7 linked regions of the Homo sapiens genome follow. The protein of the gene in region 1 purifies or fractionates together with the protein of each later gene. This does not show direct contact. Each region holds a gene or a part of one and is shown in the gene's direction. Other genes may lie near its edges.

Region 1 (4,441 bases):
GTCCCAGGGGCAGCTGAAGACCTGATGGATCACATTACCCTCCAGGCTTGTCTCCGGCCTTGAGGCCAGCCCAGCCCTGCAGCCTTCGAGGCCCCCATACTGGCCTCTCCCATACTCTGAGGCCCACAGGCTGCCTGCGAGCTCCCTACTCACCAGGGCCTTCCCCAGTGAAGTCACCCGGCCTCTGTAATCTCTCATACATGTTGTTCTCTCTGATTCCAGATCCTCAGCACCTCCCAGGAGCTGAAGGATACAGACCTGGACTATCTGGAGGTAAAGAGACCTCTGATGTTGGGGCATCCCCCACCCCCACCCTCCCCACTAGGGCTGGACCCAAAGGAACTAGGTGCCCTCCTGGTCTGGCCTAGGGTTTTATGACACTTGAACAGGGTTGAAGGGGGAGGGTGGAGAGTAAAGCAAGAGATGTGTGGTCTGGGGAGAGGCAGGAGAACCCCAGGCTGCAAAAGGGGGAGCCTAGCTCCTACAGCAGGCGTAGGGAGGTGGGGAGACAGGCTTGGGGTGCACCATAGTCCTCAAAGTGGCCCAGCCCTGACGCTTTCTGTGTCCCACCCCCAGATGTTTGTCCACGTGGCCGAGGTGATGGGCAAGCATTATGGGATGGTGCCAATCCAGGTGAGACACCTATCTCTGGATTCATTGGCCCCAGGCCCCGCCACCCCCATTTGCTGGTGTCAGGACCCCTTCTCTTTCAGCATCTGGACCTCTTAGTTCGTGACTCATCCCACCCCAACAAGGCAGGGCAGGGGCATGTAGGCAACATCTTCCAGGTGAGTGGTGCAAGGGGATGGGGTGGAGGGGCCATGGACAGGGCAGAGGTGGGGAAGACATGGGAGGCTGGACCTCCTAGCTCAGAGCACTCCTCTCGCTGCCTCACAGAGATTGTCTGGCAGATACCCCAAGGTGCAGGAGCTGCTGCAAGGGAAGCGAGCCCGTTGCTGCCTCTTGCCTGCCCCAGGGAGGCGGCGGATGAACCAAGGCCATGCAAGCCCTGGTGGTGAGTGTCTCTGAGAGCTGAACCTCTCTTGCGCTGCTCCCAGCTCCCCTCCGGCAACCGAGCCCCTTGAAGCACCCACCTCTCCTGGCCTCTGACACCCCTTCTCCTCCCAAAGCCCGCAGTCTCTCAGCATGCACATCTCTCCCTCAGACACAGATGATGACTTCCGCCACCTTCTGGGGGCCTACGTCTCAGATGTGCTGAGTGCGGCCCCCCAGCACGCTAAGAGCCGCTGCCAGGGGTACTGGAACGAGGGGCGCGCCGTGGCCAGGGGGGACAGACGCCTACTCACGGGGCAGCAGCTAGCTCAGGAAATCAAGGTGTGAAAACTCCCTGGAGACCCAGGCGACTCGGCTGGGCCCCTGCTCTCCCTGACCCCAGCGATGGTATCTCCGCAGAACCTCTCAGGATGGATGGGGAGGACAGGGCCCGGTTTCACCTCTCCGGATGAGGTATGAGCGCTGGGGGATCCAGCATTCTGGCAGGGAGACAGGGGAGGCAGGGAGGTGGGGGCTGTGCCGAGGCCTCCGGGGTGGGGGTCTGTGTGCCCTGGGAGTGGAGATGAGGAAACAAGCAGCGCCCCTGGCTGAGAAGGAAGGAAGGAGGCAGCCTGGGTTTTCCCGTGGACAGATGGCTGCTCAGCTGCACGACCTGAGGAAGGTGGAAGCTGCCAAGAGGGAGTTCGAGGAGTATGTGAGGCAGCAGGTGAGCCCCGGGGCTGCACGGGAGGCAGGTGTGGGCCGGGCAGGGTCCAGATCAGGGAGAGGATACCTGGGACTCCTGGTCAGGGCACCTTCTTTTCCCCTCCCTGTCACAGGACGTAGCCACCAAGCGCATATTCTCTGCGCTGCGGGTCCTGCCAGACACCATGCGGAACCTCCTCTCCACCCAGAAAGATGCCATTCTGGCCCGCCATGGTGTGGCCTTACTCTGCAAGGGGAGAGATCAGACCTTGGAGGCACTGGAAGCTGAGCTGCAGGCCACGGCCAAGGCCTTCATGGACTCCTACACGATGCGCTTCTGTGGCCACCTAGCTGCTGTGGGGGGTGCTGTGGGGGCCGGGCTCATGGGCCTGGCAGGGGGCGTGGTGGGTGCTGGCATGGCAGCAGCTGCACTGGCTGCAGAGGCTGGGATGGTGGCTGCTGGAGCTGCCGTGGGGGCCACAGGGGCCGCTGTGGTTGGGGGTGGCGTGGGTGCTGGGTTGGCTGCCACAGTGGGCTGCATGGAGAAGGAGGAGGATGAGAGGCTTCTGGAAGGGGACCGAGAGCCCCTTCTCCAGGAAGAGTAACAGCCCCAGGAGGTATTGAAGGACAGGAGAGATGTCAGGTGGGGATGAAGAAGAGGGGCAGGTCGGGGGAGGGTGATGCCAGGGATTCCAAGGCACCGCCATGTACTGCACTGCCCTGGTCGAATGCTCGGTGTCTGGGTGGCAGCTGAGCTGGGACTCAAGGTGGCTCTTGGAACCTGGGAGGCAGCATCTGGGGGCAGTGGATAGAACACCCGGCCTGTTTCTGGTTGCAGATGGTTGCCGATCTGCCCTTGTCACAGATAGGCTACATCCCAGGGTTTCTGGCTGCAAGTGAGACTCCACCCTCCCCACCTGGCTCATTTCCCCGATGACCCTGGATTGTAGGAAAGTTAAGCAGGCACCATCCTGGAAGTCTACCCCTAGGTGGTCGAGAGACCTGTTCTTTCACAGATGTGAGAAGCCCCAGGATGATTGACCATGGTGTTCAGGAGCGGGGAGCACTGATGAGGTGCTGGGGATGACAGGAAGGAAGGAACACTGGGCAGAACCAGAGAGATGGGACATGGTAGACTGTGGCCCAGACCCCAGAGCAGAGAAACTTGTTCCCATGACCCTTCCCAAATCTGCTCCAGCAGGACTAAGGTGGCTTTCCCACTCCTGGCCCACAGCCCCAGAGAGCCTGTCTGTGCATCCTGAACCACTCTTTGCTGGGCCTCCGCAAGGGCCTCTCTTGGGTCTGTGTCCTTTTTCAAGCCTGTTTAGATGGGGGAGTGCCCATGCCCTCTGTGAAGTGCCCAAATGCGAAAGAATAACACCTTTTCTTGCATTCTGAGCTAAGCCAGACAGCCTTTATACTAGATTCTATCAAAATCTTGCAAAGGAAAACAAAATGAACAACTTCTACCCTTAAACACATCCTTTCTCCCCTGGGCTTGTAAGAAGATGCAGCTTGATGCAGCTCCTCAAACACCAGGCCCCCTGGGAACTGGGGGTGCGGGAGTTCTCCCTCTGGGGGACAGAAAATCTGACTACTAGGAAGACTTCTAGGCTATGAAACTGACTTCTAGGCTATGAAACTTACAGGGTATGGGTGGGCACATTATCCTTTATTTTATGAAAAATAAAATGTGTGTATGTGAATGTCAGCTTCCCAGTATATTATTGAAACAGAATTTAACCCTCAGATGACTTCATGGTGGGAGCAGGTGAACCAATGAGATCCATTGCTGGAATGCACAGATGGGAAGAGGGAGATTGGAATTCAAGAGATCCAAGGAAGTGAACGTCAGAGGTCCCCATTCAGTGGCTGCAAGAGGCCTCAGGCCAAGGCCAAGTGGATATGGGCACCTTTGCAGGCTCTTCCACTAGGACTTGGGGTTCCGCTCCTCTTGTCTCCTCTCTGAGAAACTGCTTCCCATGATCCTGTCAACAGGCAGTCAACAAGCACCTGTCCCAGCAAGAGGACAGAATGGATACATAAGCAGAGAGAACTTGGTCAAGCCTTGAAGGAAGGAGAAGCCCAGGACCACTTCTGCAGGGCTCAGCCAGCCAGGAGTTCACCCAACTGATTCTCCTCCCAGCCCTGCTCCCCAGCTCCCCAGCTCCCCATCTCAGAACCACAGCAGTAGTCACTGCATCCAATCCTGGCATTTTATAGGTGCACACCCAGAGAGAGAAAGTCTCAGATAAGCCTGTGCAGCTGCTGATGACAGAAGCAGGGGAACCCCGAAGTCCTGGTTCCCAAGCTGGTGCACTTCCTGAAGTTATTTTGTTAAGGTCGACTGTGCTGAAATTGAGATGCTCCTTTTCAGATGCTTCTTCTGGCTGATCAGGTCCAGCTCCAGGGAAGTGTGTGGTGGGCAGAGGCAGCAACGTGGTCTAGAACAGATGGCTCAGCAGTGAAGCTATAGTTAACAGGCTGGGGACAAAATACAGAATGTAGAGAAATCCCAAAGCCAGGGTGGGGTTGAGTGGGGTAAAGACAAATGAGAGTGACTCTCTCTTTTAGGGTCTGAGCCAAGGGTGGGAACAGGGTCTTAACTTTGTGTAGTGTTTGTGGAGAAGGACTTTCTGGAAGCATCTTTCTGAGCCCTTCCACTGTCATCTGGTGGACACATGAGCTATGAAACCTTCCAGACTTTGGAGGCTCAGGATGAGGGGGCCCAGAGACTCAGAGA
Region 2 (4,131 bases), on another chromosome or scaffold:
CACACTGTTCTGAAATGGAATGGGCCACCTCCCTAGGGGGTGAGCGCCCCGCCTCCAGAGGCATTCACACCCGGGCCAAATGCACTTGGCGGAAGCAACAGAACTTTACAGCAGGGGCCGCGTAGCCTGGACTCTGCAGTCGCTGACAGGATTCAAGTCCTGACTGCCACAAGGTATCTTTAGGCAGCTATTTAACCTCTCCGCGCCTTGGCCTGCTCCTCTGTAAGTGGAGAGGATAGGAGTACCCACCTCAGAGGCATGTAGCCAAGGCTTGAGAAATGGCAGCCAGCACGATCAGGGTTCCCTCCCGCCCCAAGTTTCTGCAGCCCTGGAAGGCCGCCTGTCAGGCCAGCAAGGAGGTGGTTCTGCCTGGGCTCTGGGGAAGAAGGTCCAGAGCCTCCGGCCGAGAGGAGACAGGGCATGGGTGGCGCTTGCCCCACAGACCCTGTATGCACCCACTCTCCCCCTTTCAGATTCTCCCAGATGCTTCAGGACAAGCCCCTGCGCACATCGTGGCAGCGGAAGATGAAGGAACGACAGGAGAGGAAGCTGGCCAAGGACTTTGCCCGTCACCTGGAGGAGGAGAAGGAGAGGCGCCGCCAGGTGAGGGGCCAGCCAGGCTGAGGCTGGGGCTCAGAGGACTAAGCTAGTGTCTACTGGTACAGACCTGAGGCGAGGGCCTCCACGGGTGCCTGGGGGAGGCCGACTTGGTTAAAAAACGTTCTTGAATCTGAAGGCCGGAGGGAGGAAGGGCACCTGGCCAGAAGCAGAAGTGCAATCTGGGACTACAGGGCAGGGAGGCCCAGGGGACCATACAGTTTAGCCTGGGCTGCTGAAAGAGCCTCAGGGACAGGGACGGAGGGGGAGGACCAGAAGCGGGCCTTGGGGAGAAGCCCGGGAGGAAGTCCTGGGTGGTAGGGCAGTCAGTGAGATGGGGTCGAGGGCCCTTTGCTGGGACGTACTCAGTTGGGAAGGGCTTGCAGATTTGAACTCCATGTCCCCGGTATGGCTGCTGTCATTCTCCAAGAAGCAGCCCACACACCAGCAACGTGGATGGCCCCCGCACCTTTCCTCCACTTCTGTCCCCTGTCACCCATCCCAGAGCCAGGAAGCCCCTGTAAAGGGTCACAGCCTCACCCACATCTGCCAGGGACTTTTAAGCGGGGGGAAGAGGGCACTCAGCAGGCAGCATGCAGAGAAAGCGGAGTGGCATTGGTCAGCTCCTGCCCCCCAGGGCAGGGCAGTCAGTGGGAGATTCCTCCTCCACTCCTCTAATGACCCAGGCGTGTAGGAGGAGTGCCGAACGGGATTCAGACAACTCATCCATAGTCCGTGGTCCCAGGCTGGCCACTGAGAAAAGGGGTGGGCCAGTCACTCAGTCATCTGTCCCCTGCTCTAAGTCACCCCAGCTCAGCTTACAGCTGACATCTGAGGAACAGTGTGTCCGCCACCATATGCTGAGGCCTTATCTCTTTTCCTGTGTGGCCCTGGCTCCCTCTTGGGCAAGACAGAGCTGCCGTCTCACTTCTCACCGTCCACTGCGGAGGTGCTCCTGCCCAGCCCCCAGCCCGGGCCTGCCCTGACCACAGGAGGCCAAGGCTCACTTCTCCTTCCTCCCCAGGGGCCTGGGCCACCCCTGCTACCCCAAGTCACCAAAGCCAGCAGAGACTCCTAACCATGCAGCAGCCTTGGAGCTGACGTCCCCACCCTGGCCTTGCTGAGGGACACAGTCAGCATGGCTAGAGAGCACTGGGCTTCCCCTCCCAAGACAGACTCCATCTAGAGTCTCAGTGTGCCCAAGGAGCTAGGGGCTGCTCCAAGTCCTGCACGTGCATTCCCTCATTGATTTCCCAAAACTATCTTACGAGGTAGATACTGTGGTCACTGTCACTTTAAAGATGAAGAAGCTGAGGCACAGACTTAGCTAAGGTCTCCTGTTTAGGAAATAACAGGATCCAGATTGAAACCCAGCCCAGATAGCTCCAGAGCCTTTTCTGTGCAGTGCAGCCCCTGCCCAGCCCCACACCTGTGAAAATCTCAGGGACCCAGCCCTCACCCCTAGCCTGGCATTCTGCAGCAGCAGGACTCCAGGGGAAGAGGGGGAGACTGTCGGAGAGGGTGGGAATGGGGGAAGGGCCAGCACCCCTTTCTCCCTTGGCAGTTGATGAGGGTGGCATGAGGGGTCACTGTCTGCATGTGCGTGAATCTCCAGGTGGGCACCCCCAGTGTCTCAGCCCCTGTCCTCAGTTGCCTGTCCCATACCCACCTCTCAACATGCTATCAGGAGCTTCCACCACAGCAGGCCCCTGGCACTAGACCGTGGCACAGGATTGCTAGCCCTCCACCCACACATCACCAACCTGGAGCCTGGCAGAGAGGGCCTTTCCCCTTCCTCCTGGGAATTCTGCCCGCTCGCACTCTTCTGGGGCCTGAGAGACCAGGGCTGCCTCTGCTCCCCGACTCAAATCCCCTTCTCCCACATGTTCCAGGAGAAGAAACAGCGCCGGGCTGAGAACCTGAAACGCCGCCTGGAGAATGAGCGGAAGGCAGAGGTCGTCCAAGTGGTGAGTGTCTCGTTTTCCCCCTCTGCCCTTCTGCCCCACTTGGGGGTGCAAACCAGGGCCTCGACCCCTGCCTCATGTACCCCCACTCTCATGCTACGATCTCAGGCCCCTGTGGGGCGGCCTTCCTCTCCCCTGGGAATTTGGACCGAGGCTGCAGCTGCACTAATGTCCTCCCCTCATACCACCCCCAGATCCGAAACCCCGCCAAGCTCAAGCGGGCAAAGAAGAAGCAGCTGCGCTCCATTGAGAAGCGGGACACCCTGGCCCTGCTGCAGAAGCAGCCGCCCCAGCAGCCGGCAGCCAAGATCTGAGCTCAGGACGGCCCGAGGCCTTCCATGGCCAACAACCATGTCAGACACAGCACCTCAGGCCGCTGCTCAGATGCCTCTGCTGGAGCTGGCACTCCAAACCCATGGCTCCAGAACAGGGACCCCCACCCCGACCGGGGCTCCTCGGCCTTTGAAGGCTTCCAGGCAGGTCTGTGTGGGACAGAAGCCCAGAGGGGGCCTGGGACCTGGCAGAGATGGGGGCGGGAAGAGATTCAGCTCCCATCCCTCCTTCCTCTCCTTCTCCAAGTGCCTTCAAACCAAGAACTGTACATTCTTCTGGTTCCTCAGTGAGCTGGTGACTGGCAGGTGACTCCCTCAGCAGTGTATGCCCTTTCTCAGCATCCTAGGTCCATCCCAGGCCTGGAGGCTGACAGTTGGGAATCCAGCTTCCCCCACACCTTCCCAAAGGCTGCTCTGAGCACCTCCACACCCCACTGCCTCTGTCCCCAGCAGACTGAATCCGGTTCCTCTCCACTTTTCAATACTGAAAGATTAAAATGGGGAGGTTGCAGGGAGCAGAGCTTTTCCCTAGCACCCACTTTCCCAAACCAGTCTCTGCAGAAGCCCCAGAGAATCTAACTCATGCCTGTCCAGTCTACAGCAAAAATATTTATTGAGTGCCTGTTGCATACAGGCACAATCCTAGGCACCGGCAAATACAGACAATAGACCAAAGTCCCTGCCCTCGAGGAGCTTTCATTCTGATGGAGAGAAAACATAATAAACAAGCAAAATGCACCACGTGTCCAATGGGGGAAGTGCTATGAGTAAAGGGGGAAGGGATGGGAGGGAGCAGGGGCGAGGTGTCAACACAGGGTGGCTCTGCAGCTAGCTGGGCACCTCACTGTTCCCTTTGCTCAGCACCTGCTGTGGGCCAGGCCTTCAGTGACCCTGGCCTTTGGTGGCAGAAAAAACACAGGACCAAGATCTCAAGAGTTTCTCATCTGCTTCTTCCACTGACATTTCATCCACCAAGCAAAATTCATTGACACCAACTTTTCGGTCCCTGGGCTGCAGAGCTCAAACACAGCAGTCTCTGACCCCAAGTCCACGGCAGGTGGAGGAATGAGACGGGGTGCAGTGGAAGTGATAGGTCAGAGGTGCAAGTTACCCCTCCCATCCGCAAAAGGGAAATGGTAGCTGCCCAGCCCCATGTGGCCTGGAGGCGGGGCTGCACAGATCTTGGGATTACCAGTGCCCAGAGGGATCCCACAGAACACCAGGCCGACAGGGAGGCT
Region 3 (4,396 bases), on another chromosome or scaffold:
GAGAGAGTGACCATGCAAGAGATTCCAGGCAGAGGTAAGTGAAAAACTGGAAATGACCTAAACGTCCAAAGAAGAGAATAGTTAAATAGTTGTTCATCAACTCTTTAGAACTTAATGGAAACATGATAGAAGCAAAACACAAAATTATATGTAATGTATGATTGTAACACCATGAAATAAGAGTGTAAAATGGGCAAAGATTAGATCAGATGGTACATATAGTTGTTTAGGATAGTGAGATTTTTGTTTTGCTATTAATTTTTTGTTTTTGTTTTCGTTTTGTTTTTTTTTGAGACAGAGTTTCACTCTTGTTGCCCGGGCTGGAGTGCAATGGCGCCATCTTGGGTCACTGCAACCTCTGCCTCTCGGGTTCAAGCGATTCTCCTGCCTCAGCCTCCTGAGGAGCTGGGATTACAGGCATGCACCGTCATGCCTGGCTAATTTTGTATTTTTAGTAGAGACAGGGTTTCTCCATGTTGATCAGGCTGGTCTCAAACTGCCGACCTAAGGTCATCCACCTGCTTCAGCCTCCCAAAGTGCTGGGATTACAGGCGTGAGCCACCACACCTAGCCTGTTTTACTGTTAACTTTTTGAACATAGAAGATTAATAATAAACAGTATTTTTGTATCTGCTAAATGAATGTTATAGATAATAAAGGAAATCATTTTGGACTGAAATGGTTAGGGAAGGCTTCAGTGAATTGGTGAGACTTATTCTAGACCTTGAAGGATGGAAGACCAGAATAGGAAGAATTCACAGGGAAAAAAAGAGGTATTCAGTATGCTGAACTTCTAGTAATTTTCTGAAAAATCACAATTCAAATCTTCCCTTCCTTATTTTAGTCTTCATGTTGGATTGAGAACATTTTGTTTACTCTCTGCAAGTGATTTGCTTATAAAGAACATTTGGTTTCAAGATAATCCTTCTGTCCGCCAGTTGTATTAGAGACTTTCGATACAGTGAAGCAGAAGCTGGACATTTCAGGAAAAGAATTGTCCTCACATTGTCCTCAAATGTGTTCCTATGAAAGGATCTTAAAGTACTGAGATTATCTTTGAGAATGGTTTTCCTTGACAGCAGGGAATCTATATTGTTGATTTCTTGGAAATCTCCAGATTTAGCAATGTTTGTGGGAAAGTTTTTCATTAAAACACTTTCCTGAAAAACTCCAGCAACCTTTCATTGCTTTGTCTTAAAGTATTTAACACCCTTGATGCATCTAAAAAACCTGATATATAGGTCTCTTAATAATGTTGTTTGAAGGAGGAGGAAGAAGAGGATAGAGACTTTTCCCAGGATACCCTGCAGTAAGATCTGTAATAGTCTGTTTTTCTGAAGGATGATATCTACCTCTTGGCTGGGTGATTGAAATTAAATTGGGGGCTCAAAGCAATCACATCCAGCTGAGACTCTTTCATGGTGTTTCCAGATTGCTCCCTTAGGGATACTCACAGATTGGGAATCTGTAACATACTGACTTCTCCACCTCTGGGGTTCCCCATCAATAACAGCTGAGATTCTCTAGCACCTTTTGGTTTAAAGTGCTCCACAAACTGAGTTTCTTGCTGCACGCAGGGATCGTTTCAGCTTTCCCGAAAAGGCAGCAGTCTCTGTTGTGGAAAGTGACAGCTGTTTTACAGCTGCAAAAGCAATGTACTACAATATGACTTTGTTTTTGTTTCCTTTCACATTAGTGTATCTCCTAGCTATGGACTAAATAATACATGGGGGGAAATAAACAAGTATTCATGAGGGTGAAAATGTGACCCAGCAGGAAAATTACAACTATTTTCAATTGACGTTGAATAGGGTGAGTAAATTTTAGCTTTTTGAGTTACAATTTGGCTGAGATATCAGAGTTAGTACTGATATAGAAAGATATTTTTGTCATCTATAAATAATTCCTGAGAGTCACTTCTGTAGAATGTTAATAAAAATATATGGTCCCCTAGCATATAAAGAGAAGAGGATTATATTCTGCTAGTGCCATTTTTGGATTACCCTAAGTAAATCTATGTTAGAGGAAAAAATAACTCTTCAGAAGCAGCAAACCTCATCTAGAACAGCTTGTTTAAAAGCCTAGACCTGGCCAAATTTTGCTGTTTCCTTGATTCTTCTTGGTCTGGGTTCCAGCTATAATTTGTGTTTTATATGTGTTGCTGTTTGTATGACATGTTATGGTTTGCAGGAGGTCTCTGAGTAGGTCTGCAACATATATGGTCTAATTGATATTTTTGTAACTTATCTCTTCAATGTGTTGGGTTGGAGAGAATATAGATTTTGGACTCAGACCTGGGTTTCAATGAGAACTCGACATTTATTGGTTAATTTAAGGTTTCTGGACTTAGTTGCCCATTGTCTGTAAAATGGAGATAATTAAGTTAGTGAGGCCAGGCATGGTGGCTCACGCCTGTAATCCCAGCACTTTGGGAGGCCGAGGCAAGCAGATTGCTAGAGGTCAGGAGTTCGAGACCAGCCTGACCAACTTGGTGAAACTCCATCTCTACTAAAAATACAAAAAAAAAAATTAGCTGGGCCTGGTGGTGGGCACCTGTAATCCCAGCTACTCGGGAGGCTGAGGCAGGAGAATCACTCGAACCCTGAAAATGGAAGTTGCGGTGAACCGAGATGGTGCTACTGCACTCCAGCCTGGGTGACAGAGCAAGACACCGTCTCAGAAAAAAAGTCAAATTCACTTAAAGAAAAAGTGTACGTGAAGTGTCTAGTTTAGTGCCCGAATCATTTCAAAGCACCTAGTAAATACTGGATTCTTTTCTTTCTAATTGTATAGTATTATTTTTAAAAATGGTCTAAAATTCTGAATTTACTGATATCCTTATTTGGAGACAGCCTAGGGGGGAAAACACCTAGATTTGAGAATCACTGTTTTAGGATGGAAGTAACAACTATCAGACCAAAACCAAACCTAAACAAAAGAAACTCACTTCATACCAACTAAAAGATACCTTATATTTTGGTAGTGAGATTGTAAACTTATACATTTTAAAATTTTTGTAATATTCTATGAGGTAAATAGAGCAAGTGTTATTGTTTTCACTTTATAGATGAGTCATGGAATTTAAGTGATTTACTGAAGATTATACTACTGGTAGATAGAAGAGCTAAAGGTTTGTCCCAGGACCTTTTTATTTATTTATTTATTTATTTATTTATTTTAAGAGAAGGGGGTCTTGTGATGATCAGGGTGGTCTCAAACTCCTAGACTCAAGTGATCCTCCCACTTCAGCCTCCTGAATAGCTGGGACTACAGGCACGCACCACCACACCCATCTTGTCCCAGGACTTCTGCTCCCTCTCCCGCTTTTAACTGTTCTTTTTGCTTTAAACTATATTACACGTTGATGTTGAGGTAGAATGGAAATTCTTTTGACCATAGCATCACAGATATGTGTGTGTTTGTTCTCTGAATTAACACTTATCAATTTTTTTTTGTGAGCATCATATTAAATGCTACATGCTTGTGTGTGTAATATAGTAGTGCCGCATGTAAGGTTTCTCCCCTCAAATTTATATTCTAGCTGGGACACAGGGCAGAATCATATGGTAAAGTTTAATTCAAGTGCAAAGAGTTTGTATCTGAGTGGCAACTGCCTGAAGCAGTAGGGGAAGGACTGGAGGAAGGGAGTGCAATTGAAGTGAGTGGTGACAACCTGCAAGTGATAAGGGGGTGGGTATGGTAGATACATGAGAGAAGAGTACACAAGGTTTAGTGATTATGCTGTGGGAAGGGGAGGAACCAGAGGTGATTCTGAAGTTTGGAACTGAGCGACTGAGAGAATGATAAAAATAGGGAAATCAAAATTGGAAGTCAGTAGGGTATGGGATAGGGTAGGTCAGTGAGTAGCGTAGTTGATGGACATGAACAGGAAGAGTAGAACAGTGTCAGGAGGCTGAGGCCGGAGAATCACTTGAACCTGGGAAGCAGAGGTTGCAGTCAGCTGAGGTGGCGCCAGTGGACTCTGGCCTGGGGGACAGAGCAAGATTCTGTCTCAAAAAATTAAAAAAAAAAAAATGGACAAGAGAACAGGTTATATTGTAATTTAAGACTTAAAACCCCCCCTAAAAAAGCTTTTTTTTAAACAACCAGTTTTCAACATCCTAGCACCATGAAATTTTCCTTTTTGAATTCTTGGACAGATAGAAGTTTTGCCGTGGTATTGAGCTGTCTTATAGTCTCACGATATATAAGTGAATGCCGAGATGATAGAAAGTAATACCTTATATTAAAACTACTGATTAGAGTCTTCCATTTTTACCTCAGGAGAGCCAAAGGAAATCAACATTTGAATTGACTACCCAATGTCCTGCCCCTGTTTCTGTCCTGTAGCACTTAGGGTATGTTGCCTATTTCATTATATGTTAAATCCATGGCA
Region 4 (4,396 bases), on another chromosome or scaffold:
GAGACCAGCCTGACCAACATGGTGAAACACCATCTCTACTAAAAATACAAAAATTAGTCAGGGAGCATGGTGGCGGGTGCCTGTAGTCCCAGCTACTCGGGAGGCTGAGGCAGGAGAATCGCTTGAACCTGGGAGGCGGAGGTTGCTGTGAGCCAAGATTGTGCCACTGCACTCCAGCCTGGGCGACAGAGCAAGACTCTGTCTTAAAAAAAAAAAAATGTATTGAGGTTTCTTTTATCACCTAGTATGGTCTATATCCTGGAAAATGTTTCATGTGTACTTCAGAAGTATGTATAGTTCGTTGTTGGGTGGAGTGTTCTATAGACACCTATTAGGTCTAGTTGGTTAGAGTGTTGTTCAAGTCTTTTATTTCCTTGTTGATCCTCTGTCTAGTTGTTCTACCATTAAAAGTGAGGTACTGTAGTCTCCTACTATTATTATTGAATTGTCTAATTCTCCCTTCATTTCTGTCAGTTGTTGCTTTGTGTATTTTGGTGCCTTATTATTAGGTACATATGTGTTTTTAATTGTTATCATTTCCTGGCAGATTAACCCTTTTATCATTAAGAAATATCCCTATCTCTAGTAATATTTTTTGCTTTAAAGTCTGTTTTGTAAGCTATTAACATAGCCACTCCACCTTTCTTGTAGTTGCTGTTTGCAAGATCATCTTTTTCCATCCTTTTACTTTTCATTTATTGTGTCTTTGAATTTAAAGTGCCTCTCCTGCAGACAGAATATATTTGGATCCTGTTTGTTAATCAAGTCTGACAATCTCTGTCTTTTGATTGGACTGCTTTATTCTCTCACATTTATTTTTATTGTCTATATACTGAGAATTACATCTAACTCTATTCTACTTTTGGATGTCTGTATTTCTCAATGTCTATTTTTTCTTCTGTTCTTACTTTATGCTTTCATTTGCATTTAGTCATTAAGTGAATATTTTCTAATGTAGTATTTTTGTGATTGCTTTGGGGTTTATGAACAACTTCAGATTTATATTAGCTTAATTCCAGCAATATTGCTATGGTTTGAATGTTTACCCCCAAAGTTCATGTATTAGACATTTAATTTCCAATGCAACAGTGTTAGGAGATGGGGCCTAATAACAGGTAATTCGATCATGAGGGCAGAGCCCTTATTAATGGTTTAATGTCACTAGCATGGGAGTGGGTTAGTTATAGCAAGAATGAGTTATTAGGCCGGGCGCGGTGGCTCACGCCTGTAATCCCAGCACTTTGGGAGGCCGAGGCAGGCGGATCACAAGGTCAAGAGATCGAGACCATCCTGGCTAACATGGTGAAACCCTGTCTCTACTAAAAATACAAAAAAACAAAAACTTAGCCGGCGGCGGTCACCTGTAGTCCCGGCTACTCCAGAGGCTGAGGTGGAAGAATGGCATGAACCAGGGAGGCAGACCTTGCAGTAAGCTGAGACCACGCTACTGCACTCCAGCTGGGGCAACAGAGTGAGACTGTCTCAAAAAAAAAAAAAAAAGAATGAGTTATTATAAAATAAGTCTGGCAGCTGGTACCTCTCTCTGTATCGTGCCCACTTCTGCCTTCCATCTTCCACCATGAGATGACACTACGCAGATGCCAGCATCATGCTCTTGGACTTCCCAGCCTCCATTACCATGAGACAAATAAACTTCTGTTGTTTATAAATTACCTAGTCTGTGGCATTCTGTTATAGCAGAAAACAGACTAAGACAGATACATAGAAGTATTACTTTTATATAGCTCTATTCCTTTCCTCCTTTTTATAGTATTGTTATACATATTATATCTATTAATGTTATATACCCAACTATACTTGTTACAAGTATTACTTTACTGTCTGTAGTCATTTTCTCAGCACAGCACAATTACGCTCCCACCAATCTTCTTTGTGCTGTTATTGGCAAATATATTACATACATATTACCTTCTTGTAGGTGACATGCCCAACATTATATCATATACATATTATTTTATATAACTGCTTTTTAAATCATTTCAGAGAAAAGAAGAGACAATACTTTTGTACTGGTTTTCAAATAAATAAATGTCCAATATAAATGTGGATTTTTAAAAATAATTACTCAATTACCTTTACTAGTACTCTTTGTTTTTTCATGTAGATTTAAATTACCATCCAGGGATACTTGCCTCAACTTGAAGAACTGTTAGTATTTCTTGTGAGGCGGGTCTATTGACAACAAATTCTCTCAGTTTTGTTTGTCTGAGAAAGTTTTCATTTTACCTTCATTTTTGAAAGATAGCTTTTCTGGATTTTTGGTTAACTATTTTTTGTTGTTTTTTTTTTGTTTTTTGTTTTTTGTTTTTTTGAGATGGAGTCTCACTCTGTCACCCAGGCTGGAGTGCAGTGGCGCAATCTCGGCTCACTGCATCTTCTGTCTCCCATGTTCAAGTGATTCTCCTGCCTCAGCCTCCGAAGCAGCTGGGACTACAGGTGTGTGCCACCACACCCAGCTAATTTTTTGTATTTTTAGTAGAGACAGGGTTTCACTGTGTTAGCCAAGATGGTCTCGATCTCCTGACCTCGTGATCTGCCCGCCTTGGCCTCCCATAGTGCTGGAATTACAGGCATGAGCCACCACGCCCAGCCCTATTTTTTTCTTTGAGTATTTTAAATATATATGTCATTACCTTCTGCCCTCCATTGTTTCTGTGAAGAAATCAGTCATTAATTTTATTGGGGTTCCCCCCTGTAAGTGATAAGTTGTTTTTCTCTTACTCCTTTCATGATTTTCTCTTTGTCTTTTGACCTTCAACATTTTTATTGCAACATGTCTATTTTGTGCATCTCTGTGTTTATTTTCTAATAGTTGGAGGCCATTGAGCTTCCTGCATGTAGAGGTTATTGATTTTTAATGAATCAGAGAAGTTTTCTACCATTATTTCTTTGAATATTTTTTCTGCTCTTTTCTTTCTTTCCTTTCCTTCTGGTATTCTCATTATATGTATATGGTACCCTTGATGGTGTCCCACATTTTTCCAAGGCTCTGTTCACTTTTCTTCATTTATCGTTCTCTCTGTTTTCAGCTTGCATAATCAATGTCAGTCTGTCTTCAAGTTCATCAGTTCTTTCTCTTGCTAGTTCATGTTTATGGTTGAGCTTCTCTAGTGAATTTTTAATTTCAATTAGTATACTTTTCAACTCCAGAATTCCCATTTGGTTCTTTTTATATATATAATTTTTTATCTCTTTATTGATGTTCTCAATTTGATATGACATTGTCATCATACCTTCCTTTACTGCTTTAATTGTGCATTCCTTTATTTCTGTGAACATACTTATAATGACTATTTTGAACTCCTTTTCTGTTAAATCTGACATCTGTTCTCACTCATAGGCAGTTTGTGCTTTTTCTCTCCAGTGTATGGGTTATACTTAAGTGTTTCTTTGCATGCCTTGTGACTTTTTTGTTGTTAACTGAACATTTTGGATAACATACTGTAACAACTCTGGGTACTGATTCTCCCCTTTCAGGGGCTTCTTATTGTTATTTGCTGGTTTAATTTTTAGTGACTGGCTAGAATATTTTAGTGAAGTCTATTTCCCTCCTACGATTTTAAGCCTCTGTTGTTGCTCCTCTGGGAGGTACAGCTTTAGGTATGCCCATGGTTGATTGCTGAATTGTTTTCAACAATGCTCTGGAGAGTAAATTCCTTTACAAACTAATCCAACCAAAGTATGGCTTCTTTGAAGCAATAGTTTCTGAGATCCCAGTTTAATACTCATTCTAATCCCAAAAAGGAACTTCCTAGTGATCTTATTCCTTGGTTTGCTTCCTGCAAACTAGTTGGCCAACAGTCTAAACTACATCTTCATTTAATCCTGTAATCTCCCTTTCCCCACAACCTCACTATTCTTGAAAGCACCTTTAGGTTTGAACTTCTCCACACTCCATTGTAAATGGAGTCAGTCCTTTGGAAAAAGATTAGGAGCTATCTGTCTTACGGCCTACTTCCCTTTTGCCCTTGGCAGAATCTCTGAGCCCAAGCTGTGTTCCTGATAGAGCATATATAAATTTAAATTTTGTCAAAACATATATTAAATACATGAAAACTTCTCAACTGGATTTTTAAAATCCTATGCTAGGCTGGGTGCAGTGGCTCACACCTGTAATCCAAGCACTTTGGGATGCTGAGGTGCGCAGATCACTTGAGGTCATGAGTTCGAGACCAGCCTGGCCAACATGGTGAAATCCCATCTCTACTAAAAATACAAATATTAGCTGGGCGTGGTGGCAGGCGCCTGTAGTCCCAGCTACTCCAGAGGCTGAGGTAGGAGAATTGCTTGAACCCAGGAGGCAGAGGTTGCAGTGAGCTGAGATCATCCGGCCTGGGCGACAGAGCAAGACTCCATCTCTAAATAAATAAATAAA
Region 5 (4,035 bases), on another chromosome or scaffold:
AATTTCAGTGAGAAGGTATGTACATTCTCTCATAGGACATGTGCTAAAATTTTGATGATGAAGATTAATATGGCCTTTTTACAAGATTGCCGCACAAATTTGTACAATGCGTGGATAAAAATTTTTTTAAGTGAGTTGTTTAAAAGGCTCACTTAAAAAAATCAGTTGGGCATGATGAGGTTGAACTTCAAGTTATTTAAGTTGTTGACTTTTATTATAGGATCATTAGTTCCTGTTGTTTAAAACTCATGTGAACCTTTAAGATGGGCTGAAGAAAAGTGGATCTGTACTACAAAATGAGGAAAGGGCTGCCAGCTTAAAGTTGCTGTTTTTGAAGATTCTACAACAGATGGCTTTATGACCAACCATAAGCAGATCTTAAGTATCTAGTGAAGAATTTAACTGCTAACAAGGAAGAATTTGGTTTGATTTAAAAGTAATATCTTCAAGCCTGGGCAACATGGAGAAACCCCGTCTCTACTAAAAATAGAAAAATTAGCTAGGTGTGGTTGTGTGTGCCTGTAGTCCCAGCTACTCAGGAAGCTGAGGATCGCTTGAGCCCAGGACGCAGGTTGCAGTGAGCTGAGATTGCACCACTACACCCCCAACCTGGGCCACAGAGTGAGACACTGTCTCAAAAATACATACCTTCAGCAAATCAAGATTTTTTTTTTTTTTTTTTTTGAGACGGAATCTCACTCTGTCGCCCAGGCTGGAGTGCAGTGGCATGATCTTGGCTCACTGCAGCCCTCACTCCTGGGTTCAAGCGATTCTCCTGCCTCAGCCTCCTAAGTAGCTGGGATTACAGGCACACGCCACCACGCCCAGCTAATTTTTGTATTTTTAGTAGAGACGGGGTTTCACCATATTGGCCAGGCTGGTTTCGAACTGCTGACCTGGTGGTCCGCCTGCCTCGGCCTCCCAGAGTGCTGGGATTACAGGCGTAAGCCACCACGCCTGGCCAAGAAAATCAAGATTTACCTGGTTTATGTGTTGACCAGCTATACACAGAGAATTCTAGATTTTTTTCTAAAAATTATTATCAAACCCCCAATTTCACCAGTAGAAAAAGAGATCTTAAGATTTCTGTGTTTTTTTTTCCAGCATAACTCAGTTACTTATGGCTGGGAGAAAATATGTAGGGAGATAATCTAATACCTAATTCGAAGGAAGAAAATATCTAATTCTAAGTCTTGAGTTCTTCTCATCAGACCATAGCAGGATTTAACATTTAACATTTTTCAGAAGCTTCTAATAGACTTCATTCAGTTTTTTGTCCACAGCAGTGGCATTTAAATTACTGTACTTTAAGACATGGAATTGCTGGAGGCTTGGAAACTTGAGTGCAATTTCCCTAGTACGACCTCCAAGGAGAATAGAGCAAAACAGTGGTAGGAAAAACTCTCAAAATTTTACCCAATTGTATGTTTTCTACATTGTCAGTATCTAGTTTTATATAGTTAATATGTACTTCTAAAATTTCTGACAGTGTTTGGTGTATAAAACAGACCAAGCTCAAGATGTAAAGAAGATTGAGAAATTCCACAGTCAACTAATGCGACTTATGGTAGCCAAGGAAGCCCGCAATGTTACCATGGAAACTGAGTGAATGGTTTGAAATGAAGACTTTGTCGTGTACTTAGGAAGTAAATATCTTTTGAATTAGAGAAAGTGTTGGGACAGAAAGTACTTTATGTAACTAAGTGGGCTGTTCAGAAGCTTAGAGGTCATTTTTTGTAATTTTCTTTTTAATTACTTTAGAGAGCTAGGGATGCAAATGTTTTCAGTTAGAAAGCCTTTATTTACTTTTGGAAATTGAACAAGAAATGCATCTGTCTTAGAAACTGGAGATTATTTGATGTTAGGTAAAACATGTAATTGTTTCTCTGGCAAATTTGTATCAGTAATTTGAAAATGAGATATTAGGAAAAACCAATTCTTCTTAAATTTAGTTCATCTTTCTTTAAAAGAACATTAAATGTAACCATTTTGTCAGATCCATGTATTTTGGAGCATAAAATGTATGCTGTTGTGACCAATAAATATAAAATATGGTAATTGGAATTAACTCCACACCATAGTATGCATTGTTATACATACTGTGTACCTAATTATGTATAGCAGTGTAGTCTCAATTATATCTGAAAGTAATTGTGACTAACAAGTATGCTTTGCCTTATTTCCACATTTAAACTACCTGTTAATATAAGGGATTTGTAGTATCAGCTTGTTGAGCAATGACTTTGAATCTAGTTTTCAGTGATCAGAAGCAGCAGTTATTTGAGTGTATGAATGGAATGATGATCACTGTGCTATAATGTACTGAAACCACCATATTACAGAAATATTTACTACATATTTTCCATCTGTAGTTTCTCAGAAGGGCTATGGATTAGTTTGAACTGTCAAATCCTTGCATACTTCTGTGACACCCCTGCCCATTTTCTGTCTTTAATTAACCAAGGTGTTAGGTGTGACTGTCACAACTGTTATGTTTTCCAGTAAACTAGAAGTACGATATTTGATAATTATATTTGTATTTCACCACCTAAATGTAATGTTGATTCCTCAAGAATGAAATGAAGGCACTACATTGAAATATGTTTTGTATAAATTTGTCATGTTGAACAGCATTTTAGCATGGTAAGTTCCCTTAGCTATATGAATTTTGGCATGTTTCAGAGAGATCAGTAAATAAAATATTAGATAAAATATATATTGTTTGTGTTGAAGTTTTTAACTTTTCAGAAATTGTTGATTTCTGAGCTGGGATATACTATATTCATTTAGTCCAAAATGAGCCTAGTAATGCTGAAAGCAAATTTTTTGTTTCTCAGTACTTTATATTATATGACTTTCTCTGCACTATATGTTAATAGCAAGTTTGTTTTCTTGAATTAGAAAAGTAACATCAAATAGTATAGGATTATTTTGGCTTTTTGTTTTTTTTTCCCCCAGAATTAATGGGATCACCATCAGGGGAGGGGAGAGGCTTGACCTTTTTCCCCCTTATTTAACACTACAGAGATGACCTGAAAAGGAGAGACTGGCATTTGGGTTCTTTGAGTCCTGGTAGCGTGTAACAGAGTGGTTAAGAACAGACATTCCAAGTCAGACTGCCTGGCTTTAAATCCTGGCTCCACTATTTCCTAACTCTGTGGTCTTAGACTAGATACTTTTCTAAGCCTTCATTTTCATCTCTGGAAATGGGGCCAACAATAGTACTTTGCTTGTAAGACTGTTAAGATTAAACATCATGATCCAAGGCTGGGCACAGTGGCTCATGCCTGTAATCCCAGCACTTTGCGAGGCTGAGGTGGGCGGTTCATTTGAGGCCAGGAGTTTGAAACCAGCCTGGCCAACAAGGTGAAACCCCATCTCTGCTACAAATACAAAAATGAGCTGGACACAGTGGCACACTGTTGGGGTGATCAGGCCCAACACCAGGCCATGGGGGCTACAAAGTCCAGCAGGGTCAAAGGAATGAGAAAAGACGAGTGCATAAAGTGGGCCAGGCACGGTAGCTCACGCCCGTAATCCCAGCGCTTTGGGAGGCCGAGGCGGGCGGATCACAAGGTCAGGAGGTTGAGACCATCCTAACACCGTGAAACCCCGTCTCTACTAAAAATACGAAAAAAATTAGTTGGGTGTGGTGGCGGGCGCCTGTAGACCCAGCTACTTGGGAGGCTGAGGCAGGAGAATGGTGTGAACCCGGGAGGCAGAGCTTGCAGTGAGCAGAGATCGCACCACTGCACTCCAGCCTGGGTGACAGAGTAAGACTGGGCCTCAAAAAAAAAAAAGTGCATAAAGTGGGTCCAGAGGGCCAGTGCCAGATTGGAGGCTGTGAAGGCCCCAAGCTCTGGGAGCCCACACTATTTATTGGTGATCAAACAAAGAAGCAGGTGGTAAGGACGTGAGGGTAAACAGGTGAGGGCGTGAGGATGTGGGGTAGAAAGGTAGTGGTACATAAGCGTAGCTGTGATGGTTTAGCATTTCGTTTGATGTATATAGAATATGCTCTGCTGCTTGAGTTAA
Region 6 (3,500 bases), about 30 Mb from region 1:
TTCCCTATTTGTAGGTTGTTCCATTTAAGTGTTCTAAATAAAGTGAAGTTGCCTGAGGGGGTGGGAGGATGAGAAATGCTTGTGGAATCCTTATTTAGGTTTGAACTTGGGGTTTTCAGTGTCACAGCTTGTTTTATTTTCAATGTTAATGCAAACTCTCAGACCAAATGCTTCTGTGCTAATATCTGGATCTATGGTATTACAGAGGAATGCAGGCAGTAGTTCAGATGGAACCGAAGATTCCGATTTTTCTACAGATCTCGAGCACACAGACAGTTCAGAAAGTGATGGCACATCCCGACGATCTGCTCGAGTCACCCGCTCCTCAGCCAGGCTAAGCCAGAGTTCTCAAGGTAAAAAAACCTTCATTTTTCCTTACCACTCCTCACATCTGGCTGACTGGCCCATCACATTATTTTCCTAGTTAATGTGGAAACTGGCCCCTTGGCTTGGTGTAGATGACAGTGCACCAGATGATTGGTAAAATGTAGAGTGAATGCAGAGTTGTCAGGTCTTTAACAATGCCTCTGTGGGGGGCTACTATCCAATCTGTAGACCCAAAGGAACTGCGGATGGTATAATGGATAGAGACACACGTATGTCTTGAGTCATTTGTTTGTTTGTTTGTTTGTTTTTTTAGATCGCAGTGTCTCCATCAGTAAAATTGGAATGTTATCCCTTCACTTTCTGTTTGAATGTTTGAGGCTTAGGGACTTGAAGTCCAGATGGTATCTGATTTATGGTGGCTTGATTTAATTTTTTTTTTTAACTTTACAGTGGTGCTAAAACAATATGCATTCAGTGGAAACTTTTAGAATTTTGAATTTCGGTCTTTTCCTGGGCCAGTGATATGTGGGCCAAATATTTTCTCATGTTGCTGAGTGGTGGCAATGAGCCATAATAACTCCAGTCAGTGAGCCGTAACTCCCAGTCAGCCATTTGATCATGAGGGTAAACCAGTACTCTTCAGTGTACTGTCTTTAATAAATTATATGCAATATTCAACACTTTATTAAAAATAGGCTTTGTGTTAGATGATTGTGCACAATTGTAGGCTAATGTAAGTGGTTTGAGCCTATTTAAAGTAGGCTAGGCTAAGCTATGATGCTCGGTAGGTTAGGTGTATAGCGGTTTTTTTTATTTTCTGGAGACAGGGTCTTGTGCTCTGTTGCACAGGTTGGAGTGCAGTGGTGTGATCTTGGCTCACTGCAGCCTTGACCTCCTTGGCTCAAGTGATCCTCCCACCTCAGCCTCCTGAGTAGCTGGGACTACAGGTGCACGCCACCATGCCTAGCTAGTTTTCTTTGTTTTTTGTAGAGATGAGGTCTTATTATGTTGTCTAGGCTGGTCTCAAACTCCTGGACTCAAGCAGTCCTTCCACCTTGGCCTCCCAAAGTACTGGGGTTATAGATGTGAGCCACCATGTTCAGCCTGTAAATGCATTTTTAACTTATAATACTTTCAACTTATGATAGTTTTATTGAGACTTAACCCCATTACAAGTCAAGGAGCATCTGTAGTCTCTTGGACTTACTCTTGGCAGAGGCCCACTTCTAAAACCATGTTTAACTCTGGAATGTAATCCAATAAACACTTGATAGATATTAATAGTTGTACCAAAATATCAGTGTGGAAATAATGGAATTTTGCTTTGGTAATAAGGAATTGAGAATCTTGGGGTTGGAAGGTAGTTTGAACTATCTCTAGTGCATTTAGGCATCTGGGGTTAGATTTGGAGGGTACCCTTGACCCTCCTGGCTCTGCTCTGGTATTCCCTGAGGAGGAAAGAAGGTTGCAGCTAATACAGAAAGCCGATGATCAACAGGTGATAATAGATGAAGGGAAAAAAACTTTAACATGTTTTGAGCACTTCAACAGTGTTGCTTTGGTTAATTTTTTTTTTTTTTTTTTTTGAGATGGAGTCTAGCTCTGTTGCCAGGCGGAGTGCAGTGGCATGATCTTGGTTCACTGCAACTTCCGCCTCCTGGGTTCAAGCAATTCTCCTGCCTCAGCCTGCAAGTAGCTGGGACTACAGGTGCACGCCACCGTGCCCAGCTAATTTTTGTATTTTTAGTAGAGATGGGGTTTCACCATGTTGGCCAGGATAGTCTCAATCTCTTGACCTCATGGTCTGCCTGCCTTGGCCTCCCAAAGTGCTTGGATTATAGGCATGAGCCACCGCGCCCTGCTGCTTTGGTCACTTTTATATGAGTATGTTGCACAATGAGAGAAAAACCATCAGTTTTTCAAGCAAGAAAGTGGGAATATCCTCTTTAACAACTGTTCCTAACTTTATTTTTGAATTTAGGATTTCAGCTAAAGTATTGCTATTGTCTCTTGATTTCTTAAGCTTTAAATTTTTACCACAATGAGACTATGGATAAATAGCTACTATAACTCAAGCAGTATGTTATGTACTAGGAACCATGATAGAAAAATCATAGTTCCTGTCCTCAAAGATCTTACAGTTCAGTGCAAGATACAGATATGAAAATTGATCATGGGAATACATTATGGCAAGGGCTGTGAGAGGGGTTTGCATAGAGTACTACATAAGCCCAGAGGTGGGACAGCCAACTTAGGGCAGCACTCCCACAATGATGAAGTCTTTTTTGTTGTTGTTGAGACAGAATCTCGCTCTGTCGCCCAGGCTGGAGTGCAGTGGCATGATCTTGGTTCACTGCAGCTTCCGCCTCCTGGGTTCAAGGAATTCTCCTGCCCCAGCCTCCCAAGTAGCTGGGATTACAGGCGAGCACCACCATACCTGGCTATTTTTTGTATTTTTAGTAGAGACAGGGTTTCACCGTGTTGTCCAGGCTTGTCTTAAACTCCTGATCTCAAGTGATCTGCCCGCCTCGGCCTCCCAAAGTGCTGGGATTACAGGCGTGAGCCGCCGTGCCCAGCTGCACACTGAGATGTCTTAAAGGCTCTGATAGGAATTTACAAGTTGAAAGATGGGAATATGTTATTCTCGGCAGATGGAACAGCATATGCTAAGGAAAAGACATAATGTTTGTAGGAAGTATAATTGACCATGCCCTAGACACCTGAAAACTAAATATTCAAAACAGCTAGGAAATGCGTAAGCACTGAGTCTCTTTCTGGTTATCATACCTCATGACCACAGAGTTGCACAACTCCAGGGGTACCATTTACAATGTCAGCAATGTAAGGTGGTCCTCCCTAGAGCACAAGGTAGATCATATTGTGAAAGGAGGCCCCTTGGAGATGTACAAATGGATAACCTTGCTCTGTGCTAACTTTTCTCACCCGAAAGTTTGGAAATTTTCAGTTTTCTTCTTTAGAGAATCTATAAGATTTCTTCAGATTTTTTTTTTTTTTAAATATACGTTGGGGGGTGCAGCCGTGAGAGAGTGAGGCTGACACCGCGCCCTGGCCTGTGCATCCCGCCCTCTGAAAAAAAAATTAATTAATTAAAATAAAATATACTTTAGAGAGGATTTTGACTGTTCTCACCACAAAGAAATGACAAGTGTTTG
Region 7 (4,396 bases), on another chromosome or scaffold:
ATCAAGAAACTATATTAAATATCATAGTTTATCATATTTCAAAGAAGAGTGATAAGAGTAAAACAATACTTAACACAATTTAATCTTACCCAAAAACTTTGTAATTTTGGGGTTTAAATTAAAATTTAGATTTTTGGTCATGTGGCTGGTAGTTTTATATATAAGTAACTTTTTAATGTTAGGTTTTATAATTAAAGCTATATAAATTTTATAGCTCTTAATTGAAGAAGCACAATAGGGAAGGTACACAGTTACTTCTGAAGGTTAGGAAAATGGAACAGTGGCATTTTATTTTGAAAACAGAGGACATTGAAAACAAAGGAGGCTTTAGACAGGTGAATTTTAAGTTTATATTTGGAAATTTGATTTGTGGTGTACAGTTCTTTAAGTTTTAGTACGTATGGATTTTTGTAGCCCCCACAACTAGGATACAGAATGTAGAAAGATAAAACATCTCCCAACTGTAGAACTAGAGTCTTCTGGCATTTTGGAGACAGGGAAATTCTCTTGAAGAAATAACTATTAAAGAGGGATGGAAAAAGCCAAGAATGGCCTACCCATGCTGAATGATTTGTTTTCTGATTAGAAAGAAAAAATATTTTGATTATACTGTTATATTTATGACAAACTTGAACATAGAAAGAATGAAAGTAGGAGAAAGAAAAAGAAGGAGTTGGGTGTTGTGGCATGTGCCTGTGGTCTTAGCTACTTGGAAGGCTGAGGTGGAAGGATCTCTTGAGCCCAGGAGTTGTGGAGGGTAGCGCACTGTGTTCTACATATGGACTGAGTGTCTGCACTAAATTCAGCATCAATAGGGTGTCCTGGGAGTGGGGGACTAACAGGTTGCCTGAGGAGGGGTGAACTGGTCCAGGTTGGCAACAGAGCAGGTTAAAACTCCCATGCTGATCAGTAGTGGGATAGCCATTGCACTCCGGCCTGGACAACATTAAGGTGACCCTGTTTCTTATTAAAAGCAAGAGGGTAGGGGAATTTTTTTAATTTTATTTATTTATTTATTTATTTATTTATTTAGAGACAGAGTCTCTCTCTGTCGCCCAGGCTGGAGGCAGTGGTGCGATCTTGGCTCACTGCAACCTCTGCCTCCCAGGTTCAAGCAATTCTTCTGCCTCAGCAGCCCGAGTAGCTGGGATTACAGGTGTGTACCAGCACACCTGGCTAATCTTTGTATTTTTAGTAGAGATGGGGTTTCACCGTGTTGGCCAGGCTGGTCCTGAACTGACCTCAAATGATCCACCTGCCTCGCCCTCCCAAAGTGCTGGGATTACAAGGCGTGAGCCACTGCGCCTGGCCGGGGAATTTAAATAAAATAAAATAAAATAATAAAAGAAGAGAAGGAAGGAAATAGGTTTACATGTCTTAAGACTGGATATTTCAGTGGTAGAAGAAGAGGGCCAATGATACGGAGGGATGTTAACCAATTCTCTACACTTAATAAATTTAAAATTAATATTCTGACTTTTAAAGGCAACCCTTTGGTCCTCCAAAAGATTAACCATAATTCATAATGCTAGATGAGCATCTTGGAGCAAGTACTTCTCTTTCACTCTCATAACATTCAACATACTTTGGCCTTGCAAAAAACAAAGTTCAATTAACTGGATGGGGTGGCATGTACTTGTAGTCCTAGCTCCTCAGAAGGGTGAGGTAGGAGGATCACTTGAGCTCAAGTTCAGGGTTGCAAAGTGATGGCACTGCTGCACTCCAGCATGGGTGACAGAGTAAAACTGTTGAAAAGGAAAATAATAAATAAAGGTTGACTAAGAAATTATCTATGCTTTGGGCCTGAAGCGATGGCTCACCCTGTAATCCCAGCACTTTGGGAGGCCAAGGTGGGTGGATTACTTGAGGTCAGGAATTTGACACCAGCCTGGCCAACATGGTGAAACCCCATCTCTACTAAAAATACAAAAATTAGTCAGTTGTGGTGGCAGGCGCCTGTAACCCCAGCTACTCAGGAGGCTGAGGCTGGAGAATTGCTTGAGCCTGGGAGGCGGAGATCCTACCACTGCACTCTAGCCTGGGCAACAGAGCAAGACTCTGTCTCAAAAAAAAAGAGAAGAAATTATCTATGCTTGGGTTTTTCTTTTTAATATATTAGTTTTGCAAATATTGATTACCACTTAATAAGTTTTTGTTACAGGCTTTACACTATTCTAAGAGCTTTATACACACTTTGTTAATTAAATCTTATAATAGTATTGGAGTAGATATTATAGCCCACCCAGGTGAGGAAGTAAAAAATTTGAGATTAAGTAATTTGCCTGTGGTCACCTAGCTACTAAATATTAGAGCTAGAATTTAAACAAAAACAGTTTTAAGAGAAACAGTTGTGTAATTTTAACAATTTTAAAATACATAAGTTGTTAAAAAGAATGCCCTGGCAATCACCTCATTAAGTAATCGGTAGACAGAACAGCTGTACTTTTTAAGGACAGCAGTTTTTAGTACAGAAAATTTGATAGCTACATTTCTGTTCTGATTGTTAAGGCTTTATCCTACTCCGGAAACTTAATTCACATGTTTCAGTTTCCAGGAACAGCCTGAGCCCTTCCACTATCCTGATTAGAACTCCAGCAGATTTATTTATATTACACTTTGTTTTTTAAAAAATGACCATTTTGGATGTTTTTGCCGAACTGCTATTTGTAGTAAAAGAATTCAACATATGGTGGTATTCTTAGCTTTACTATTATAGTGGCAAATGTACTCTTAAAATATTTGACCTTAGAATTACTAGTTCATTTTAACTACTAGAAATGGAAGAGACCTTGTAAGTGGCCAATTCAACTTCTTACTCAAAGCAAGAATTATCTTTATAATATTTCTGACAGGCTTACCTTGCTTTTGCTTGGATCCATCTGATGATTAGTAGGTTACTACAGTCACCCCTTAACATTCACAAAGCATATGTCCTAAGATCTTACAAATTTCCGTATTTAGCATTCAAACCTCTTCACTTTCGCCTTCCGTGATCTACACTAGGATTTGGCCTCCTCTTCACTGCTCTTCCCCACCCTGCCCCCCTCCCTCAAGAAAGAAACAGATTTCTCTTTGTAAGAGTTATTGTATCCCCTAAAAGAAAACAAAGCTCTGGGCCTGGGGTCTCAGCATTAGGAGTGGTGAGGGATATCCAAGCTTATTTTCTAGATGCATACCTCATGGCATGTTAGTTACATTTTGTGCTTTAGCAAAATTACACGTCATTTCACAGCTCTTTGGGTTATTTGGCAAATTGTTAAAGTAATGCTATAAGTTTTAGTTTAATGTAACTTACTCACTTATGGATAAACTGAACAGTTTTTCCTTTGCATTCAGTCGTTTGTTAATGTTTGTCTTCATGAAGCCTGGAGTTGAGCATAATACTCTAAACATACTGTGACAAACATAAAATTCAGTGGAACTGTTATGACTCCAAATCTGTGCATTAGATTTCTATTAAAATTTTATAAAGCAGTATTGTCACACTACTAGCTGTCACAGCTAGAACCTTTTTCACATGACAGTCTGGGTCTGTATTCTGCATTTATGAAATCCAGTTTCTGAACTGTTAATATGACTGTATAACTAATTGTTTAATTCTGCCTAGCATTCTAAGACCTTTAAAAATCTTGGTCATGGAATACATTGGTACTCCTTCAGATGTATATATTATTTCATATGCCATGTTTACTTTCCAAGTCTTTATTCAAGTTATTGACATGGAAAAGGACAGGGTCCAACATATCCAGGCCAAATTATTTCATATTGACCACATTCTTTTAAATATAAAATGATTTTCTACTTCAAACATTGTGTGATTCTCATTTGTATTAAGTTTATTTAAGGAGAAGTATGTAAATGACTAGTACTTTCAGTAGTCTTAAAAAATCAAGTGGATTGAGGGAAGGAAGTGACTAAATTTTTTTAAGGTTTATATTTTGTGGATGCTGATTCACTTGGAACTAGGAGTGTGGTGAATATTTGGGCTTTTTTATTTTAAATGGGCAATTTAGTTAAAATTTGAGTGATAAAATTCTGGTTTTTGAAGTTAATGCATCAGTCTCCCCTCATCATAGTTCAGGCTGCCATAACAAAATAGTATAGACTGGATGGCTTAAAAAACAGAAATTTATTTCTGACAGTTTTGGAGGCTGGAAGTCTGAGATCAGGGTGCCAGCATAGTAGTTCTGGTGAGGGCTCTTCCTAGCTTGCACACAGCCACCTTCTGACTGTATTCTCTAATGGAGAAGAGAGCAAGCTCTGGTATCTCTTTTTATAAGGACACTAATCCCCTCATGGCCCGTACAACCTCATCTAAATCTAATTACCTCACCAAGGCCCCATCTCCAAATATCAGCCCAGGGGATTTAGGGATTCAACATATGAATGTCAGGGG

The links.
Region 2: the proteins of RNF112 (region 1) and CCDC86 purify together in Homo sapiens (affinity purification with mass spectrometry, with the first as the bait; one large-scale study listed by BioGRID). This does not show direct contact.
Region 3: the proteins of RNF112 (region 1) and RACGAP1 purify together in Homo sapiens (affinity purification with mass spectrometry, with the first as the bait; one large-scale study listed by BioGRID). This does not show direct contact.
Region 4: the proteins of RNF112 (region 1) and DHX57 purify together in Homo sapiens (affinity purification with mass spectrometry, with the first as the bait; one large-scale study listed by BioGRID). This does not show direct contact.
Region 5: the proteins of RNF112 (region 1) and SRP9 purify together in Homo sapiens (affinity purification with mass spectrometry, with the first as the bait; one large-scale study listed by BioGRID). This does not show direct contact.
Region 6: the proteins of RNF112 (region 1) and KAT7 purify together in Homo sapiens (affinity purification with mass spectrometry, with the first as the bait; one large-scale study listed by BioGRID). This does not show direct contact.
Region 7: the proteins of RNF112 (region 1) and PRRC2C purify together in Homo sapiens (affinity purification with mass spectrometry, with the first as the bait; one large-scale study listed by BioGRID). This does not show direct contact.

What each region holds. Positions count from the first base shown.
Region 1 is NC_000017.11:19,413,873-19,418,313, forward strand, and holds the end of RNF112 (RING finger protein 112), read left to right. Parts: intron 1-222; coding exon 223-273; intron 274-576; coding exon 577-633; intron 634-713; coding exon 714-788; intron 789-873; coding exon of another isoform or gene 874-897; coding exon 898-1,015; intron 1,016-1,165; coding exon 1,166-1,335; intron 1,336-1,413; coding exon 1,414-1,467; intron 1,468-1,645; coding exon 1,646-1,720; intron 1,721-1,832; coding exon 1,833-2,303; 3' UTR 2,304-3,404; downstream 3,405-4,441. UniProt on the Homo sapiens protein: E3 ubiquitin-protein ligase that plays an important role in neuronal differentiation, including neurogenesis and gliogenesis, during brain development.
Region 2 is NC_000011.10:60,847,451-60,851,581, forward strand, and holds the end of CCDC86 (coiled-coil domain-containing protein 86), read left to right. Parts: intron 1-473; coding exon 474-603; intron 604-2,489; coding exon 2,490-2,564; intron 2,565-2,755; coding exon 2,756-2,875; 3' UTR 2,876-3,631; downstream 3,632-4,131.
Region 3 is NC_000012.12:50,018,478-50,022,873, reverse strand, and holds part of RACGAP1 (rac GTPase-activating protein 1), read left to right. Parts: intron 1-1,696; exon of another isoform or gene 1,697-1,812; intron 1,813-3,067; exon of another isoform or gene 3,068-3,130; intron 3,131-4,284; exon of another isoform or gene 4,285-4,322; coding exon of another isoform or gene 4,323-4,358; intron 4,359-4,396.
Region 4 is NC_000002.12:38,868,815-38,873,210, reverse strand, and holds part of DHX57 (putative ATP-dependent RNA helicase DHX57), read left to right. Parts: intron 1-4,396. UniProt on the Homo sapiens protein: Probable ATP-binding RNA helicase.
Region 5 is NC_000001.11:225,787,751-225,791,785, forward strand, and holds the end of SRP9 (signal recognition particle 9 kDa protein), read left to right. Parts: intron 1-1,489; coding exon 1,490-1,609; 3' UTR 1,610-2,714; downstream 2,715-4,035. UniProt on the Homo sapiens protein: Component of the signal recognition particle (SRP) complex, a ribonucleoprotein complex that mediates the cotranslational targeting of secretory and membrane proteins to the endoplasmic reticulum (ER).
Region 6 is NC_000017.11:49,791,681-49,795,180, forward strand, and holds part of KAT7 (histone acetyltransferase KAT7), read left to right. Parts: intron 1-205; coding exon 206-353; intron 354-3,500. UniProt on the Homo sapiens protein: Catalytic subunit of histone acetyltransferase HBO1 complexes, which specifically mediate acetylation of histone H3 at 'Lys-14' (H3K14ac), thereby regulating various processes, such as gene transcription, protein ubiquitination, immune regulation, stem cell pluripotent and self-renewal maintenance and embryonic development.
Region 7 is NC_000001.11:171,491,739-171,496,134, forward strand, and holds part of PRRC2C (protein PRRC2C), read left to right. Parts: intron 1-4,396. UniProt on the Homo sapiens protein: Required for efficient formation of stress granules.